2 linked regions of the Homo sapiens genome follow. The protein of the gene in region 1 interacts with the protein of each later gene in a pairwise test. Each region holds a gene or a part of one and is shown on either strand. Other genes may lie near its edges.

Evidence for each region. The genes of interacting proteins can lie anywhere in the genome.
Region 2: the proteins of ELK1 (region 1) and FOXE1 interact in binary tests that used the Homo sapiens proteins (3 or more experiments, as listed by UniProt).

The regions. Positions count from the first base shown.
Region 1 is NC_000023.11:47,640,564-47,644,063, reverse strand, and holds part of ELK1 (ETS domain-containing protein Elk-1), read left to right. Parts: intron 1-2,588; 5' UTR 2,589-2,622; coding exon 2,623-2,832; intron 2,833-3,500. UniProt on the Homo sapiens protein: Transcription factor that binds to purine-rich DNA sequences. Forms a ternary complex with SRF and the ETS and SRF motifs of the serum response element (SRE) on the promoter region of immediate early genes such as FOS and IER2.
Region 2 is NC_000009.12:97,851,882-97,856,025, reverse strand, and holds the start of FOXE1 (forkhead box protein E1), read right to left. Parts: upstream 2,801-4,144; 5' UTR 2,112-2,800; coding exon 990-2,111; 3' UTR 1-989. UniProt on the Homo sapiens protein: Transcription factor that binds consensus sites on a variety of gene promoters and activate their transcription.

The DNA.
Region 1 (3,500 bases):
CGGACACTTCATGGCTTTGTGACTTGTATAATTGAACAGGAAGCTCATGTTTATTTCCAGTTTGCTCTCAGGAAAGAAAGCAGTAATGGGGTGACAGGGAGGATCCTGTTCTTTGAAGGACATGCTGAGAGGGAATAGTCGGTGTGAGGGGCCGTTTAGCCTAATGGTGAAATGCTTAGTCAACTGGAACCTGACTGCCTGGCTCCAAATGCTGGCTTTGCCACATGTGGCCTGTGGAAGGTACGTAGACATTTGTGCCTCCGCTGCCTCATTTATAAGTTAATGACAGGAAGACTACCTACTTCTCAGAGGCATGATCAGGGATAAATAAGTCAATGCCCATTAAAAAAAAAAATAACAGTACAGGTGTACATGCCCTTACCCAAAACCCCTGGGGCCAGATGTGTTTCAGAATTTCCATTTCTTCACATTTCAGAAAGGTAACATGATGCATATACGATGTTACATAACACCCCTTAGTAAGCTCTGTAATCGGCTGTGTTCATATTTCTGCAGCAAAATGTATGAACACTCGCAATAAGTGAGATTCAATAAAGACCAGAAAGGGCCTTGTTTCATTTCAAATCAGGTTTTGCCACCAAAAGAGTTAAAAGAAGCTTTCTGCCCTTAGAGCATTTTGGATGTTGGAATGGCAGATAAGGGACTATGAACAAATCAGAAACTAATATTTAGAGCTTATCATACACCTCAGGCATATAATATTTAATCTGTACAATATCTCTGTGAACTAGGTATTGTTATCCCCATTTTACTAATGGGCATATCATTATCCCTGTTTTACACATGAGAAAATTGAGGTACAAAGAGGTTAAAGAATATCAGCCAAGCGTGGTGCCTCATGCCTGTAATCCTAGCACTTTAGGAGGCCAGGGAGAGAGGATTGCTTGAGCCCAGGAGTTCAAGAACAGCCTGGGCAACATAGTGAGACCCCATTTCTTAAAAAAAGAAAAAGAATATGCCCAGGGTCACACAGCTAATAAGTGGCAGAACCAGGATTCAAACACTGGCAATCTGGCCCTAGTGCCTGGGCAGTTGTCCAGCAGGCCATATTGCCTCTCTGCTTAGAAGAGTGCCTGATGTGTATTAAGCTCTCAATAGATGTTAATTATTGCTGTCATCAAGAAAGAGAATATTCAGGGCCGAGCACGGTATCTCACACCTGTAATCCTAGCACTTTGGGAAGCCAAGGTGGGAGGTGGGTGGATCACTTGAGGTCAGGAGTTCAAGACCAGTCTGGCCAACATGGTGAAACCATGTCTCTACTAAAAATACAAAAATTAGCCGGGCGTGGTCGTGGGTACCTGTAATCCCAGCTATGCGGGAGGCTGAGGCATGAGAATCGCTTGAACCTGGGAGGCAGAGGTTGCAGTGAGTCAAGATTGTGCCACTATACTGCGCTCCAGCCTGGGCAACAGAGAGAGACTCCATCTCAAAAAAAAAGAAAAAAAAAAAAAGAACGAGAACATTCAGGGACAGTAACAGGACAGAGAGATCAGGCATTCATTCAGTTTTAGGACGGCTTCATAAAGGAAAGGACCTTTGGGCTGGGACTTGAAAGATAAGAAAGACTGCTAGGCGAAAGAAGGAAGCCCCACGTGGAGTGAGCAGCCTTTGCAAGGGTCTGGCAAAAAAAAAACCTCCTGAAAAACTTGACATTGATATGGTAGAAGATACAGATAATATTCAAATGAGGAGGATGGAACTAGTTTTCTATTCTTGCTGTAACAAATAATCACAAATTTAGCTGCTTAAAACAACACATTTGTTATCTTACAGTTCTGTAGGTCAGAAGTCCCACACTGGTCTCAGCTGAAATCAAGGTATTGGCAGGGTTGCGTTCCTTCTGGAGGCTCTAGGGGAAAATCCATTTCCTGCTCATTCAAGTTGTTGGCAGAATCCAATTCCTTGAGATTGTAGGACTGAAGTCCCTGTTTCCTTACTGTCTGTCAGCTGACAGCCATTCCCAGCTTTAAGAGGCTGCCCACAGTCCTTGATTCTGAGCCTCCTTCCTCCATCTTCAAAGCCAACAATGGCAGGTTGAGTCCCTCTCACATTTTGAATCTCCCCTGCCTCTTCTGTCATCACATCTCTGAGCTACCTTTCTTTCTCCATCATCTGCTTTTCAGAGCTCATATGATTAGATTGAATTTCATCAAATAATCCAGAAATAATCTCCCTGTCTTAGGGTTTGTAACCTTAATTTCATCTGCAAAGTTCCTTTCTGCTATGTAGTGTAAATAACATACAGGTTCCGAGGATTAGGATGCGGAGCAGGGTTGGCATCATTTGGCCTACCACAGTCTGCCCTCTGACCCCCACAGATTCACATTTGTTTCACATTCAAAATACATTCACACCATCCTAAGATACCCATGAGTTGTATCCCATCACAGGGAGCATCCCAAGCAAGACTGGGGAGCTAGAAGTTAGTCTGGGAAGGTTTAGGGAATGATGGTAGGGTTTGAAGACAGAGATGGAGAAAAGATGACAAAAAAAGGAATCCTCCTCCCGCTGACCTCTGCCCCTCCTATGTCCACAGCCTCTCAACTCAGCTGTTTGCTCTCCAGGTACCCCTGGGATGGCGTGAGCACTCCCCCAGCGATGGACCCATCTGTGACGCTGTGGCAGTTTCTGCTGCAGCTGCTGAGAGAGCAAGGCAATGGCCACATCATCTCCTGGACTTCACGGGATGGTGGTGAATTCAAGCTGGTGGATGCAGAGGAGGTGGCCCGGCTGTGGGGGCTACGCAAGAACAAGACCAACATGAATTACGACAAGCTCAGCCGGGCCTTGCGGTACTACTATGACAAGGTACAGTCTCTCAGACCAGGGCTGGAACCCCCCCCTGACATTTATATCAGAGATTTTATTTTGTTTTAATTGCCATAGCTATGACTTTGAAAGCAATGTTAAAATTTATCAGTTTTTAACCCATCCATTGGTACCCTAAGACCAGTATTGGGCCCCTAAACACTATCTCACCTACTTTCTTGTCTTACTGCTTTGGCGAAAACCACCACTGCATTATTAATACTGACTCTTTCTACTCCCACTCTGAGATCCCCAAAGTGATGCTGCCCTGCCATGCACAACGTTTCATTTTCCTGCCGTATTCCTATAGCCAACATCTTGAAAACACGGTTAATAATGGCTGGTCCTCATTCTGTCCTCTGAAACCCCTGGACCAGTGCTGGGCTTCCCTAGTTATTTCATAGTCTTCTCTTATTCCAGAATATTTCATATTCCTAGAATCAAAACCTCCCTGACAGTATTATACCAACTTTTGCTTACTTCGTCCTCTGGGACTCCCAACATTTTTAACTAATTATTTTCTTCTCTTATTCCTTAAGCTAAAACCTCTGAAACAACATGTTTAATGCCAACTTCCACACACTGTCTTCTTAAATTCCCAGAGGAGCACTGGTCTACCCCAATATTTATATCAATTGTTTTCATTATCTTATTCCTACAGCTAAAAT
Region 2 (4,144 bases), on another chromosome or scaffold:
AAGAAACAGTGGACAAATGAACGAATGTACTTCTCTCTGCCTTATAATGGAAAAGCAGATTTATGACTGGGCAGTAACAGCCATGAAATTACCAGCACGTCCTGCTCAAAAGTTCAATAAGTTATGATATAATTGCTGCCTGGAGCCAATCCTGGGACTTTAGGTTAGACGCTTGGCCATGAACTCTTTTCCGTTCCCTAGAACAGCGGCTAGGCTTTGGGTGGCTACTCAGAGGCCCTGGGTGGCCCACCATTGCTGCCAAATACGCAGGGCAGCATCCAAGATGATGGGGCCCTGAATGATAACCCGGGGGCGGTGGATAGAGTCCTGCAGCCCTCTAGTGTAACAGATGGGGGAGACTGAAGGTTCAGGTGATGGGACTGGAGTGCTGACGCACAGTTCAACTCGGAGCTAGGTCTCAAGTTCTCAGAGACAGGGAAAACCAGCCCAGGTCAACCAGAGCAGAGATTTCTCCAATTTAAAAAAGAAGAAAAGCCTATTTCTTTTGCAAATTTGTCCTCCTCACTTTAAGAAGAAAGGCGCTGCCGCAGCCTTTTATTGTAGTAACGCAGTTAAAGGCACTAGAGGACGAACCGCGTAAAAAGGCCCGAGTTCCGGCAGCACATGGAAGGCTGAAACTGATTCCCCACAATTTGGATCCTGGTCTCTGGTGTTGACACTACGCTGCCCTCTGGTTACCGCCAAGGACCCTCCCCGATAGAATACCAGAAAGCATCCCGTTTGAGGGCTTCGCTCCATCGAGGGTCCCTGTGCCAGTCCAAGGGCTCTGGCTGCCTCGCCCCACCTCCTCCCGTTTACAGAGTACACCGGGTGCCTACGCTGTGCGCGGGGAGACCGAGCCTCTGTGGCCTGCTCGGTCTTTTCCACGTGGGTCCCAGTTGAGTCCTCTCTCCATTCCTGTTCGTTCTCAGATTGCGGGGAACGTGTGAACAGCCGATGTGTCTATGAGTTTTCGTCCCTACGCTGGCTCACATGGCGGACACGAACCGATCTATCCCACCGGGATAAGCGGCAGCATGGCGAGCATGGTAGGCGCCTGCACTGGCCCCTCCGAGCTGCCCGCCAGGGTTGTAGCAGGCTCCCAGCGCTCCGAACTGGCCGGGCGACGTGCGCCCGTAGAAGTCCACCGTGGTCTCCACGCCGCCACTGCTGCCGCCCGCTGGGGGCGAAGCGGGTCCCGCCAGGCGGCCAGCAGCGGCAAAGATCGCACTGCCGGCGCCCTGCGGGTACGCGCCGTCGGGGCCCGCGTAGGCAGCCGCATAGGCGGAGGGGTTGGCCGGCCGGGCCCCGGTGCAGCCTGCGGGCTGGTAGCCGGTGGTGGTAGCGGGGGCGCCGGCGGAGGCAAAGGCGCAAGAGCCGCCGGGCCCCGACGGTGCGGGCCCCAGCTCTGGGCTGAGCGGCCGCTCAGGAACCAGGCCGAAGACGCGGCAAGGGCCGGGCGACGCCGCGGGGTAGTAGACTGGAGGCGGCGCGGCCAGCGACGGCGGCGCGTAGCCTGCATAGACGGCGCCCGGGTAGGGGGGGCGCGCGGCGGGCACCGCGCCTGGGAAGATGGCGGCGGCGGCGGCGGCGGCGGCGGCGGCGGCTGCGGCAGCCGCCGCGTCGTGCATGTAAGCCGGGTAGGTGGAGAGGTCCGAGCGCTTGAAGCGCTTGCGGCGGCGCAGGAAGCTGCCGCTCTCGAACATGTCCTCCGCGTTGGGGTCAAGCGCCCAGTAGTTGCCCTTACCCGGGCGGCCGGCCTCGCGCGGGATCTTGAGGAAGCAGTCGTTGAGTGTGAGGTTGTGGCGGATGCTGTTCTGCCACTTTTTGGGGTTGTCGCGGTAGAAGGGGAAGCGCTCGGTGATGAACTTGTAGATGCCGCCCAGCGTGAGGCGGCGCTCGGGCGCGTGCGCGATGGCCATGGCGATGAGCGCGATGTAGCTGTAGGGCGGCTTCCCGCGCTGCAGGGGGCGCTTGCGGCGCCGCCCGCCCGCCCCGCGGCCCGTGGCCTCCCCTGGGACCCCGGCCCCTGCTGCCGTCTCGCCGCGCTCTTCCTTCACGGTAGCCAGCACCTCCGGCTGCGGCGGCGGCGGCCCGCTCTCGGCAGTCATGGCGCGGGCGTCCCGCACCCCCGGGCTCTGGATCCCCGCGGCTGTCGGGGGGCGGGGGCGGGCCTGGCGTCCCCGGAACGGACGCTCGGCCCTTCTGCGGAGAGCTCAGGGGATCGTCGCGGGCTGGCCCCGAGAGCCCAGCGGCCCAGGCTGGCACGCGCTGGAGGCTCAGCGTCCGTGGTCTGGGGCTGGCGCGGTGCAGACAGAGGCTCGGGAGTGACCCGCTAGCCGACGGCTCAGCCCGCGTGGTGCTTCTCGAGGCGGGCAGCGGCGGTGGCCTCGTGACCGGGACTGGACTCTGGTCTCCGGCTGAAGGGTCCCTTGCGCGCTGGTGCCGGGCGGTCGAGGGGTCCGGAAGTGATCCCTGGGTTGGGGTGGCTGCAGCTGGTCTGTGGTGCCCGCTAGTTTAGGATTACTGCCTAGGTTGTGCGCGCAGAAGAGGCTTCGGGCTCGAAGGCCAGAGCGAGGGCAGTTAGTACTGGCGCTGGGCGATCTGGCGGGGGCCGCCCATGCCCTGCCCCCGAGGCCAAGGTGGCCGTAAGCGCCACGGGCAGAGAGGCGAGGCGGGGGCAGCGAGGTCGGGGCGCGGGCCCAGGCGGGGCGACCTGAGGCTGGTCCTCTCCACGGCGTGGGTCTCCAGCCCTGCGGACCGCTGGCGAGGCGCTCCCCTGCACACACCGGACCGGCTCCTCCCTCCGCCGGCTTCCCCTCCTTAAAGGGGCCACGAAGCGTGGGGCGGCACCGGTTCCCTGCCCGCCCCCCGACTGCCCGCCCCCCGGGGCCCGGGCGCACCTCCCCAGGTAGGAGCAGCTGTGGCGGCGCGGTAGGAGCCCCACAGCGTCAGGGCGGGGAGGGCGCTTGGAGATCCCCCGGGTCGGCCCCCTCCGCACCCCGATCGACTGAGGCCCGGAGAGTTCAGGAACCGGCTCGGGAGACCTCAGCGCCCGAACTCGGAGTTTTCGGACTTTTCAGGCCTCTGCCAAGGGCTTGGACTCGCAGGTGAAAGGACGGGCTCATCTCACTTTTTTGTCCTGAGAGGGTGAGAATTGGCCGAGAGGGCGCTTGGTTTTTGTGGGAATGGGGAGGGAGAAGTTCCAGGAGACTGGCTCCCCGGGCCTTTCAGGATGGTTTCCAAACCCCAATCGTGGCTGCCACAGCCACTCGGCACTCCAGTCCCCCCATCTTTCGAATGAGTATTCCTAGGCCCGAAAGGGAAGGTGACTTGCCATGGCCCCACTGCGGCTTCTCCGCTTAGCGGAGTCTCCAACCTGCGTCTCCTTTAGGACTGCGCTTCCCAACTGTGTGGTAGAGGTAGCCGCTTTCCCTTTTTGGGCCCCAGGTCCCTCGACTGTACCGGGGTCTGGATCTCTCAAGAGTCCTTGCGTGGTAGATATTTAGGGATAGGCCAATCACCACCCCCAATCATCCGTCTTTGAGAGGCCCAGGATCTGTCTCTATTTGATGGATAGTGGTGCACGGATTAAAGACGACGCAGGATAGGTAACCTCCTCCTCCAATCCCCCGGGACCAGGGTAGCTCTGAAGACCCCCAGAGGCAGCCAAGCAGCCCCTTCCCGCAGCGGGGAGTGAGGGCTGCGGGTAATGGGGGAGTGGGAAGAGAGCGGTGGCCGGGTGGGCGCGTCTCCGGGGGAAGGGGCGGGCAGTCGGGACACGTTTGCTTCATGGGTGTCCAATTTCTGAGTTCCTTTCCTGCTGTCCCTGAGCCGGAACTTGGTCCTAACCTGAGATCCTCGCGGCGCGGCCCCTCTGGCCCGGGTTCGTTCCCTGGCCATTCACTGGGAGATCCAGGGCCTGTCCTTGTCCCCTCGCAGGGCCTCAGTGTTCTACTCTGTTAAATAGCAGCTGGAGGGCGTGTGCTGATCTCCGAGGCCCCTGCTACGTATAGGATTCCGGGCCTTGGCGCGGGTTCCAGTGGCTCCAGCCCGGACGCAGCTTTCCGGGGTGGGGGGGGGGGGCGGGCCGGGGCTGTGGGTGCAGAGCCGCGCGGATGGTGGTGCCAGGTGAGTGTGGGAG